Regions from separate parts of the Homo sapiens genome. Here region 1 is linked to region 2. The links come from fine-mapping of genetic effects on gene expression. A gene starts in region 2. The other region holds a variant in brackets. All regions are shown on one strand. Distances are from middle to middle. Region 1 overlaps SLC22A4 (solute carrier family 22 member 4). Region 2 holds the start of SLC22A5 (solute carrier family 22 member 5).

Region 1 (5,381 bases), 64 kb before region 2:
CCCTAATACAGACTGGTAGAGCTGTGGTGGATCCATTGTCAGGATGCAAGGGGCACAGCCAGGTCCCTGAGTGACCCTTCTCCTTCCCACAGCCCCTCCACTCCCATCCCTATCTTCCCACTCACACTCACTGGTTCTTCTGCTTTGGTTTAGCCTCCAATGATCACAGAACTCATCAGTGAGGCTTTTCCATCTGTGGTAGCTTTTCTAATATAAAGAAAGAAAGATACTGAGAACATTTTAAGGCTTAGCAGCCTTCTGGCTTAGTTGTTTGTAAATGAAAATATGAGTAGAAGAATTAAACAGCCAAAAAGATAACCCACAAAATGGGAGAAAATATTGACAAATCATATATCTGATAAAGGATTTGTATCTAGAATATAAAAATAACTCTGATAACTCAGCAATAAAAAGACAACCTGATTTAAAAATGGATAAAATCATTTGCCCATTTTGGAGAATAGATGTTTTGCCAAAGAAATACAAATCAATTAGCACATGAAAAGATTCTGAGACTTCGAAGTTAGCAGTGTGAGGAGCGCCAGCGCCATAGACCAGCTCCTCAGTGAAACAGCCATAACTGGTGAAAATACACACACACACACACACATTTAGAGTCTCTGGAAGTTGTCCTAAGGGCATATATTTATTCAAGAAAGTCGACTATACCTTGGCAAGAACAGTGAAGTCTATGATATTTGAGTCATAACTCCTTCAGCCCTCCCCTTCCCCTTCCTCCCAGCACAAGAAAAATGGAAGTTCCACTCTAGGTGGGTATGGCCAAGAAAATACTGTTCTCTCTCCCATCAGCTTCCAAGGAAGGGCTACAGCAGCCCACCAAGAGGGACAACCAATGCCCATCCCCCACCCATCCCTGTATTCTCTTAGCTCCAAACCACAGAAGGTAAAATCCTCGTGAGTGCAACCAGGGGATCATAGGTTCCCATCCTCCACCCACCGCCTATTCATATAGTAGAGACTCTACTCCAGGTGCCACAAGTTGAGAATATTAGAGCCTTGATTGCCCTTATCCCAGCTCATTCATACGGCAGAGATTCCACACCAAGCTCCCACTTCCACTCAGTGTCTGACTCATAAAGTAGGGGTGTCATTCTGAGATAAATGGGCCGCTTTCCCTGCCTACCTCTCTACAACAGGAGCTCAGATATTTTGCCCAGCGGGGAGAGATAATCCAAAAGAACAGAGTTCTAAAGCTGTCCCCACAGGAACGAACTTTATTTGAAATAGAGTGTGTGAAAGGACAGCCTAAGATTGCTCTCAAGAACAATGGAGAATTTAGTGGTAAGCAACTAAAAGGATTCTGGTAACTCCATTAGAGCAACAAATGAACCCATAATGCAGCTAGTTTACCAGGAAAAAACAGAAAACAAACAAACAAACAAAACAAGAAAGAGACAGCTAAGAGCAGCCCTTCTGGAGTCAAAACAAACCTTATAGATTTGCCTCAAAAACTACCACTGCAAAGAGGCTTGACGTCAACTGGATTAGACTGTGGGACAATATATGCCCCCAGGGCATTATTGAAATGAATGAGGCAACTGGCTAGCAATTAGTGAGGCTAACAGCTGGGTGTGATACCAGCAGACACAGACAGCTTAATAGAAAGATCAGACTGGCGTGGTGGCTCATGCCTGTAATCCTAGCACTTTGGGAGGCCAAGGCGGGTGGATCACCTGAGGCCGGGAGTTTGAGACCAGCCTGGCTAATGTGGGGAAACCCCATCTCTACTAAAAATACAAAAATTAGCTGGGCATGGTGGCAGGTCCCTGTAATCCCAGCTACTCAGGAGGCCGAGGCAGGAGAATTGCTGGAACCCAGGAGGTGGAGGTTGCAGTGAGCCGAGATCATGCCACTGTACTCTAGCTTGGGCAACAGAGTGAGACTTCATCTCGGAAAAGAAGAAGAAGAAAGATCAGGGAAATGGGGGTGGAAGAATGTGACAGTACCTAATTTCTACAATATATTATCTAAAATGTCCAGTTTTTAACCAGAAATTACGAGATATGCAGAGAAACAGAAAAATATGACCTATACATGGGGGGAAAACGTGGGCAACAGTAACTGCCTGAGAGGGTCCACATGTCAGATTTTAACAGACTTTAAGGCATAAGGCAGCC[A/G]TTATAAATATGTTCAAAGAATGAAAGGAAGTCATGCTTTTAAAAGTATGATGACAATATTGCATCAAATAGAGAATAGCAATAAAGAGAGAAAAATTACATTTATATTTTTAAAAGCTGAGCCAGACATGATGGCATGTGCCTATAGTCCCAGTTACTCAGGAGGCTGAGGTAGGAGGATTGCTTAAGCCCAGGAGTTCAACCCCAGCCTGGGCAACAGAAAGAGACCTTGTCTCTTAAACAAACAAAACAACTGAATAGAACTTCTGGAGTAAAAGTATACAATAATTGAAATTTAAAAGTAACTCAAGGGCCTTAACAGAAGATTTGAACAGGCAAAAGAAAGAATCAGCAAACTTGAAGATAGAGGATTGGAAATTATGCAATCCAAAGAACAGAGAGGAAAAAGGGAATAAAGAAAATGTATAGAGTCTCAGAGAAATGGGGAACACCATTAAACATAGCAATATATGCATAATAGAATTACTAGGAGAGGAGAGAGAGAGAAAAGGGCAGAAAAAATGCTCAAAGAAATAATGACTGAAAACTTCCCAAATTTGGTGGAAAACATTAATCTACACCTTTCAGAAGCTCAACAAACTCCAAATAGAATGATCACAAAGAGATCCACACCCTGATATATCATGGTAAAACTGCTTAAATAAAAAAAGAGACAAAAACGAAGGGAAAATTTTGAAAGCAGCAAATATATGACTAGGTACATACAAGAGAACTCCAATAAGATCAACGTTTGACTTCTCATTAGAAACCATAAAGGACAGAAGGCAGTGGAGTGGCATATTCTAAGTGCTGAAGGAAAAAAGAAACTGTCAACCAAGAATCATGCATCCAACAAAACTGTCTTTCAAAACTGAGATAAAGAAATTCAAAAATACACAAAACTTGAGAGAATTGTTTCTAGCAGTGATGTCTTACAAGAAATATTAAAGGAGGCACTTCAGAAATAAATTTAACCAAAAATTTGCAAAATGTATACTTTAAAAACTATAAAATGTCATTGAAAGAAATTCCAGAAGGCCTTAACAAGTGGAAAAGCTTCCCATGTTCTGTTCATGGAGCAGAAGACTTATTGTTAGTATGGCAGTGCTCTCCAAATTGATCAATAGATTCAATGCAAAAGATGTTCAACATTAGTTATTAGAGAAATGCAATCAAAACCACAATGAGATACCTCTTTACACCCACTACAATGACTAAAATTAAAGACACACAATAACAAGTACTGGTAGGAATGTGGAGAAATTGAAACCCTCATTCATTGCTGTTGGGATTGTAAAATGGTGTAGCCACTTTGGAAAGCAGATTAGGAGTTCTGCAAAAGGTTGAGTATATACTTACCGTATGACCCAACAATTTCACTACTATGTATATACCCCAAAGAAATGAAAACATGTACACACAAAATGTTGTACATGAATGTTCACAGCAGCATTATTCATAGTAGCCAAAAAGTGGAAACAACCCAACTACTTATCAACTGATGAACAGATCATTGAAAACGTGGTAGACCCAAACCGTGAAATATATATATATATATATATATATATATATATATATATATATATATATATATATATATAGTTGTTGTTGTTGTTGTTGTTGAGATGGAGTCTCACTTTGTTGCCCAGGCTGGAGTGCAGTGGTGTGATCTCAGCTCACTGCAACCTCCACCTCCAGGCTCAAGCAACTCTCCTGCCTCAGTCTCCCAAGTAGCTGGGATTACAGGCACGTGCCACCGTGCCCAGCTAATTTTTGCATTTTTAGTAGAGACAGGGTTTCACCATGTTACCCAGGCTGGTCTTGAACTCCTGACCTCAGGTGACCCACCCGCCTCGGCCTCCCAAAGTGCTGGGATTACAGGTGTGACCCACCGCACCCAGCCCAAACCATGGCATATTATTAAACCATAAAAAGTAATGAAGTGCTGATACACTGCACAATGACATGGATGGACTTAGAAAAGGAGCTAAGTATAAGAAGCCAGTCATAAAACACTATATATTGTATGATTCCATTTATATGAAATGTCCAGAATAGGCAAATTCATAGAGACAGAAAGTAGATTAGTGGTTTCCAGGGGCTAGAGGAAGTAGCGAATGAGGAGTGACTGCTAACAGGTATGGGTTTTCTTTCAAGGGTGATGAAAATTCTAAAATCAGATCATTGCTGATGGTTGCTGAAGTCTGTGAATATACTAAAAATGATTGATTTGTATACTTTAAAAGAGTAAATGTTATGGTGTATAAATCATATCTCAATAAAGTTGTTACAAAAAAGTAATTAACTAGCCATGTTTGTTTTTGTTTTTCTTTGTTTTGTTTTTTCATATTGTCAAGGAATTCCCAGCTTTAAGTCACAATCAAGTGACAAAGATAGAACTGGGGTGGATGTATAGTCCATTATTAACTACTACTTCTTACTTTTCTCTAGAATAAAGGATAACTATGAGAGGATACTATAGAAATCAATCTTTTATTCTTAAAAGGACCATTGCTAATTTTTCACTCACAGTCATCTCTGGGATTGAATTCCATTTATCAAATCCCTTTTATAAGAGCTTTTCTAGCTTTTAGTAATGGACTGGAATAATTTTTATTTCTTAGAATTTCTTTCTCTTAGTCAGATTTAAGTGTAACCTGCTTTGCTTATTCGTCCATGTGTTCCAAGTCATGATTTTGCTCAGGACAAATAAAATGCTCTACTAGTATGAGCCTGGTAGAAAGGGAACTACCATTTAATGAGGCCTGTAATGTGTCAGACGCTCCACTGATATTTCCCATCCAATGCACACAACAAACCTAGGAGCAGGTATTATTGTCATCTTTTTGAAGGTGAAGAAGCAGGCTAATAGAGGTGAATGGATTGCCCAACATCACACAGTCCAAAGTTGCAGACCCCGAGAAAGCCTGTGTTCTTTGCTGAACACCAGGCTACCTTCCAGCGTTCTCAGTTCCGTGCAGGTCAGACGGGGTTCACTTATCTTTATGGTCCTTTATAGCTCTGGTAAAAACTAAAACTGCCAGACTTTGGCTACTTGGAGAGTTAGTTCAAGGCTGAGGGTGATTTTCCAAGTGCAATGCGTGATACTCCTCAGCCCAAGAACCACATTTTCCAGGCTGATTTTCTATGACTCCTAATTAATTGTTCAATATTCATTCAACAATTTGTTAAGCACCCACTGTGTGCCTAGCACTGTGCAAACACTAGTCATCTAAAATATGA
Region 2 (5,381 bases):
TCATTCATTGGGTGCCATCTTGGAGGCAAGCTACCACATCTGCCAGGGTATGAATGCATTTAATCTAAAGTTCTAGCCCTGAACTGTAGGGTTATCTACCATATAAATCAGTTTTACATTTTTTAATATGTAAAATAGGAACATCCCAATTCAGAATATTGCAGGATAAAGGGCCTCAGGTAACTGATTAAGATTCTAAGCTCTCTTTCTCTTTTAAAAGATGAAATTTAAGGCTGGGTATGGTGGCTCCTACCTATAATCCCAGTACTTTGGGAGGCCAAGACGGGGGGATCACTTGAGGTCAGGAATTTGAGACCAGCTTGGCCAAAATGGCAAAACCCTGTCTCTACCAAAAATACAAAAAAAATAGCTGGGTGTAGCGGCGCGTGGCTGTAGTCCCAGGCACTTGGAAGGCTCAGGTGGGAGGATTGCTTGAGCCCAGGAGGTTGAGGCTGCAGTGAGCCAAGACCACCTCACTGCACTCCAGCCTGGGTGACAGAAGGAGACCCTGTCTCAAAAAAAAAATGCAATTTAAATAGTAATGGCATTCAGATAGTAATCACAGTGCACCTGGAACTGGACGGCACCATCTTAGGTTGCTCTCTGCTTTGCGCATGTGGACAAGCCATCTATGACAAATAGTTTCTTTTCTTCCTAAGGATATGCAGCTTCTTTTGTAGTATACTGCATTGTTTTCAGTCCCTTTCAGGAATGTTATCTGATGCCCAACTGATATTTCTCAAATGTTAAAATAAGACTTCTTCATCTTGTTTGGTCTGGACAGAGGTCAACATTCTTCTCATAAAAGCTTTCATTTCTTTTGAAGCATTAAAATAATATTTTAGCACACAAAAAAGGAGTTTATTTTCAAGAAGCTTTGCTTTCTTTTTCAGTTAGTTCTAGATAAGAACTATAACTTCACATAAGATGTTAGAAGGATTTAAGTACATTGCTGAAGGTATAACCATCCATCTTCAGGAAGTAAGAATAGTGAATAGTAAGTATAAAGAAACAAACAAGTCCTGTGATAACATCTTTATCATAATTTTTTTAAGTCTATTATGCTTTATGCAAATGTTTAGATTTCCTTGTTAAAAATCTGCTGGCCAGGTTAGGTTCCCTTTCTGTAGCTTTATTTTCAACTCATAATATAGTGACTATTAAATATTCTTTACTCAACACATTATATTGTAAAAATATACACTTAGTTCTGTTTCTATCACTAAGCCACTACTATTTTAAAAAGGAATATCTTGCATTGTTAAGTTTAGCAGCCCAAATTCTTAAAGGCCTTAGGAATGGTGCTGTCCAATAAGATAACCAATAGCTACATGTGGCTACTGAGCACTTAAAAAATGAGTCTGGCCAGGCATAGTGGCTCACGTCTGTAATTCAGCATTTTGGGAGGCTGAGGTGGGAGGATTGCTTAAACCCAGGAGTCTGAGACCAGCCTGGGCAACACAGGGATGCCTTGTCTCTGTAAAATAAAAAAAATAAAAAAATTAGCTGGGCACGGTGGCATGTGCCTGTAGTCCTAGCTACTCAGCAGGCTGAGGCAGGAGGCCCACTTAAGCTTAGGAGTTCAGGGCTGCGGTGAGCTATGATTGTGCCACTGCACTCTAGCCTGGGTGACACAGTGGGACCGTGTCTCCAATAAATAAATGAATAAATAAATATTAAAAAATAAAAAGTGTGGCTAGTCCAAATTGAAATGTGCTGTAAAATACACACTGGATTCCTTTTTTTTTTTTTTTCAAATCCTGAGAACCTGTGAAACACACTGAATTCTTAAGATTTAGTATGAGGAGGGGAAAAAAAGATCAATGATTTACATATAACAATGTAAAATATCAATAATTTCTATATTGATTATATGATGAAATGATCATGTTCTGGATATACTTGATTAAATATACCATTAAAGTTAATTTCATCTTTTATTTTTACTTTTTAAATATGCAGCATTGCCCAATAAAATACAGGACAACCAGTTACATTTTTATTTTATATATTCCTGCTTGGGACATAATATTTAAAAATTATTCATTCTATATCTGAAATTCAAATTTAACTAGGAGTCCTATATTTTTATTTGCTAAATCTGGCAATTTTATTAATATGGCTACTAGAAAAGTTAACATAACAAATGTAGCTCCTTATCCTATGGAACATTGCTGCTTTAGAATCACCTCGCTGCTTTTTTTTTTTTTCCAGTTAGCTTCTGAATAAACTCTGCACGGAAATAACTAATCTGTGGGGAATATTTAACCCTAGGCTAGGATCGTTAATCGTGAAGTTAAATTTTTACATCTGCATGAACAAAATGGCTTGTTACAGACGAAAATGTGGAAAGGGCATCTGGACTAGAATGAAAAGTCATAGCTCCCAGCCTCTCTACTAGGGTAGTTAACAGTCCCAGGTTCAAAATAATCCCCGTCCCTCTTATAAGATTAGGCGGTGTCAAGAGCAACTATCTGTGAGACCCTGGGCCAGTGACTTTCTCCTTACCTCCGCCCCCAAGTAGGCCTTGCAAAAAGCTGGGAGGGGTGCGTTTTCAACACTGGAGCTTCGCGGCCGCTCTCCCACTCGCTCCCCGCCCGGCGCTAGAGGAGCGAGTTCGGACTCGGACCCCAAGGCCTCGAGTCCCGCTGCCTTCCTAAGCCGAGCCCGGGCTACCTCGGTCGTCCCCAGCAGGCTTGGCTGGCAGAGGCCGGGCCTCGCCAGGTCCCCAGGACAGGCCCCGCCCGGGCCTCAGGTGCACTCCCGGCCCGCCCCGCGCCCTCGCGTCCCGCCCCAGCTCCGCCTTCGCCGGCGCCGCTCTGCCTGCCAGCGGGGCGCGCCTTGCGGCCCAGGCCCGCAACCTTCCCTGGTCGTGCGCCCTATGTAAGGCCAGCCGCGGCAGGACCAAGGCGGCGGTGTCAGCTCGCGAGCCTACCCTCCGCGGACGGTCTTGGGTCGCCTGCTGCCTGGCTTGCCTGGTCGGCGGCGGGTGCCCCGCGCGCACGCGCAAAGCCCGCCGCGTTCCCCGACCCCAGGCCGCGCTCTGTGGGCCTCTGAGGGCGGCATGCGGGACTACGACGAGGTGACCGCCTTCCTGGGCGAGTGGGGGCCCTTCCAGCGCCTCATCTTCTTCCTGCTCAGCGCCAGCATCATCCCCAATGGCTTCACCGGCCTGTCCTCCGTGTTCCTGATAGCGACCCCGGAGCACCGCTGCCGGGTGCCGGACGCCGCGAACCTGAGCAGCGCCTGGCGCAACCACACTGTCCCACTGCGGCTGCGGGACGGCCGCGAGGTGCCCCACAGCTGCCGCCGCTACCGGCTCGCCACCATCGCCAACTTCTCGGCGCTTGGGCTGGAGCCGGGGCGCGACGTGGACCTGGGGCAGCTGGAGCAGGAGAGCTGTCTGGATGGCTGGGAGTTCAGTCAGGACGTCTACCTGTCCACCATTGTGACCGAGGTGGGTGCCGGCCCCTGCTGGGGCTGAGACCAGGGCTCGGAGGACCTGTCGCGGTCCTTGAACCCGAGCTCCTCTCTCCCAGATGCGCACTGGACGCTGTCACTCCCCCTCCCCCAACGGTCAACACCCTAGCGATGGAGACCCTCCAGCCAGGTGGCTTGGGAACGCTTCACGAGGTGACCTCCAGCCACAGTGTGCTCCTCCCTGCACAGGTGGTCAGTCTGGCCTCCCGTCCTGATGGCCACTTTGAAGAGGGTACCAGGAAGGTCCTGGCGGTCCCTGGGCGATGCTCTATGGCCCTGTGTGTCCAGGACTTACTCTAGTTGGGGTTGGGGGTGGTAAGTAGCAGAGCCAGGACTTGGGCCAGGGGCTATCCCGTTTTTCCTCTAGTCTCTTGATTTCTTTTTAGAAGAGAAGAAATACTTCTCTTTCCTGAACTTTTAAAAGTTAAATAAAGCATGTGTATACAACTGCCTCTTCCCTTTTTCCTCTAGTTACTCCTTCCCCTACCGTCCACAACCCAAAAACGACAATCTGGTCATGCCCTGTAAGTAATTGTTTGCCTTTTCCCATGGTCAGTTGTCAGTCTTTTTTTTTTTTGAGACAGAGTCTCCCTCTGTCACCAGGCTGGAGCGCAGTCGTGTGTTCTTGGCTCACTGCAACCTTCGCAGTCGTGCGTTCTTGGCTCACTGCAATCTTCGCCTTCCGGGCTCAAGTGATTCTCCTGCCTCAGTCTCCGAGTAGCTGTGAGCCACGACGCCCAGCTAATTTTTGTGTTTTTAGTAGAGACGGGGTTTCACCGTGTTGGCCAGGATGGTCTCGATCTCTTGACCTCGTGATCTGCCTGCTTCTGCCTCCAAAGCTGGGATTACAACCGTGAGCCACCACGCCAGGCCGTCAGTTGTCACTCTTTAAGATCCATTCATCTGAAGATGGGTTCAGGGTGACTTGTTGACCTGGAATATTTTCTCAGGTATTATGAGGCAAGGCTGTCGGCCAGATTTAGTTAAAGCATACAGCCTTAGGTCATAGGGTGTAGGGGAGCCTTTCTCATTTCTCATCCCCTTGGATTTTCCCTCTGGGTGGTTTTGTCTGTCCCCTCCGAACCTGTTGGAGCAGTTGTTGGAGCTGGATGTAGGAACATGATGTTAATGATGTATGTGTTTTGTGTCTTTTTTAGACACTGGCACTCTAGCTCCCTGAAGTTTCAGCAGCATTGAGTAAGTAGCCAGTGAATAGCCCTCATTGATAGATAGGCTCACTAAATGTGCAGATGACCAATTCGCAGGTTAGAGAAGGCTTCCCAGAAGAGGAGGCCTCTCCGTGAGCCTAGGGTGTTCAGCTCAGCATAATAGTGAGCTGAAGGCCCCAGTGCAGCAGCAAGAAACCACCCAGCAGGACGGCGGAGTTCACAGAGAGGGGAGAGTTCATAGAGAGGGAGAGTGCCACAGGCCCTGGCACAGCTTCAAGCCCTGCTGGATGTTGGTGCTGAGCCTCCCCTCCTGGAGCCTCAGAGGGGCTTACAGGGGCTCTGGAGATCCCAACTGTGTTGCTTCTTGGCGTCATCACCCTTCAATGGAGTCTGAGAGCTACCCTGGGAGATCCAAGTGTGTGTGCATGTGTGTGTTTTTTCTTTTTGGAAATTTGATGTCCCCAGCATTTGGACCTGCTTTCTCCACATATATGTAGTGGGAGTGTGACCGGAGCCCCACTGGGATTTCTTAGCTAGTGACATAGCTTCAGTGTCCAGAGGCATCATGGCTTGACAAAAGAGGCACTCCTTGGAGGTAGCCAACTGTGCTTTCTGGCCCATGAATCCACAGGAAATTGGAACCTTCAGTTGCCACAAATCCTGGGTCCTAGCCTCACAGGTGGGTGTGTTACCTTCCCGGAAGCCAGTGAGTACTATGAAAGCAGAGGCTGT

The links. PIP is the estimated chance that this variant, and not a neighbour inherited with it, causes the effect.
Region 1: its variant is fine-mapped to the expression of SLC22A5 in gastroesophageal junction (GTEx, PIP above 0.99). The same link has a PIP of 0.9 or more in aorta.

What each region holds. Positions count from the first base shown.
Region 1 is chr5:132,302,705-132,308,085 of GRCh38, forward strand. The region is part of intron 1 of SLC22A4 (solute carrier family 22 member 4); the gene reads left to right. Among named protein-coding and RNA genes, the nearest start is that of SLC22A4, 11 kb to the left of the region's middle. The variant A/G (reference allele first, on the strand shown) is at 2,139.
Region 2 is chr5:132,366,909-132,372,289 of GRCh38, forward strand. SLC22A5 (solute carrier family 22 member 5) reads left to right here and starts at 2,802. Exons shown (of 10, transcript NM_003060.4): 1 at 2,802-3,457. The coding sequence starts at 3,065. MIR3936HG (MIR3936 host gene) reads right to left here and starts at 3,008. Exons shown (of 8, transcript NR_110997.1): 1 at 2,936-3,008. RefSeq lists a silencer at 2,685-3,004.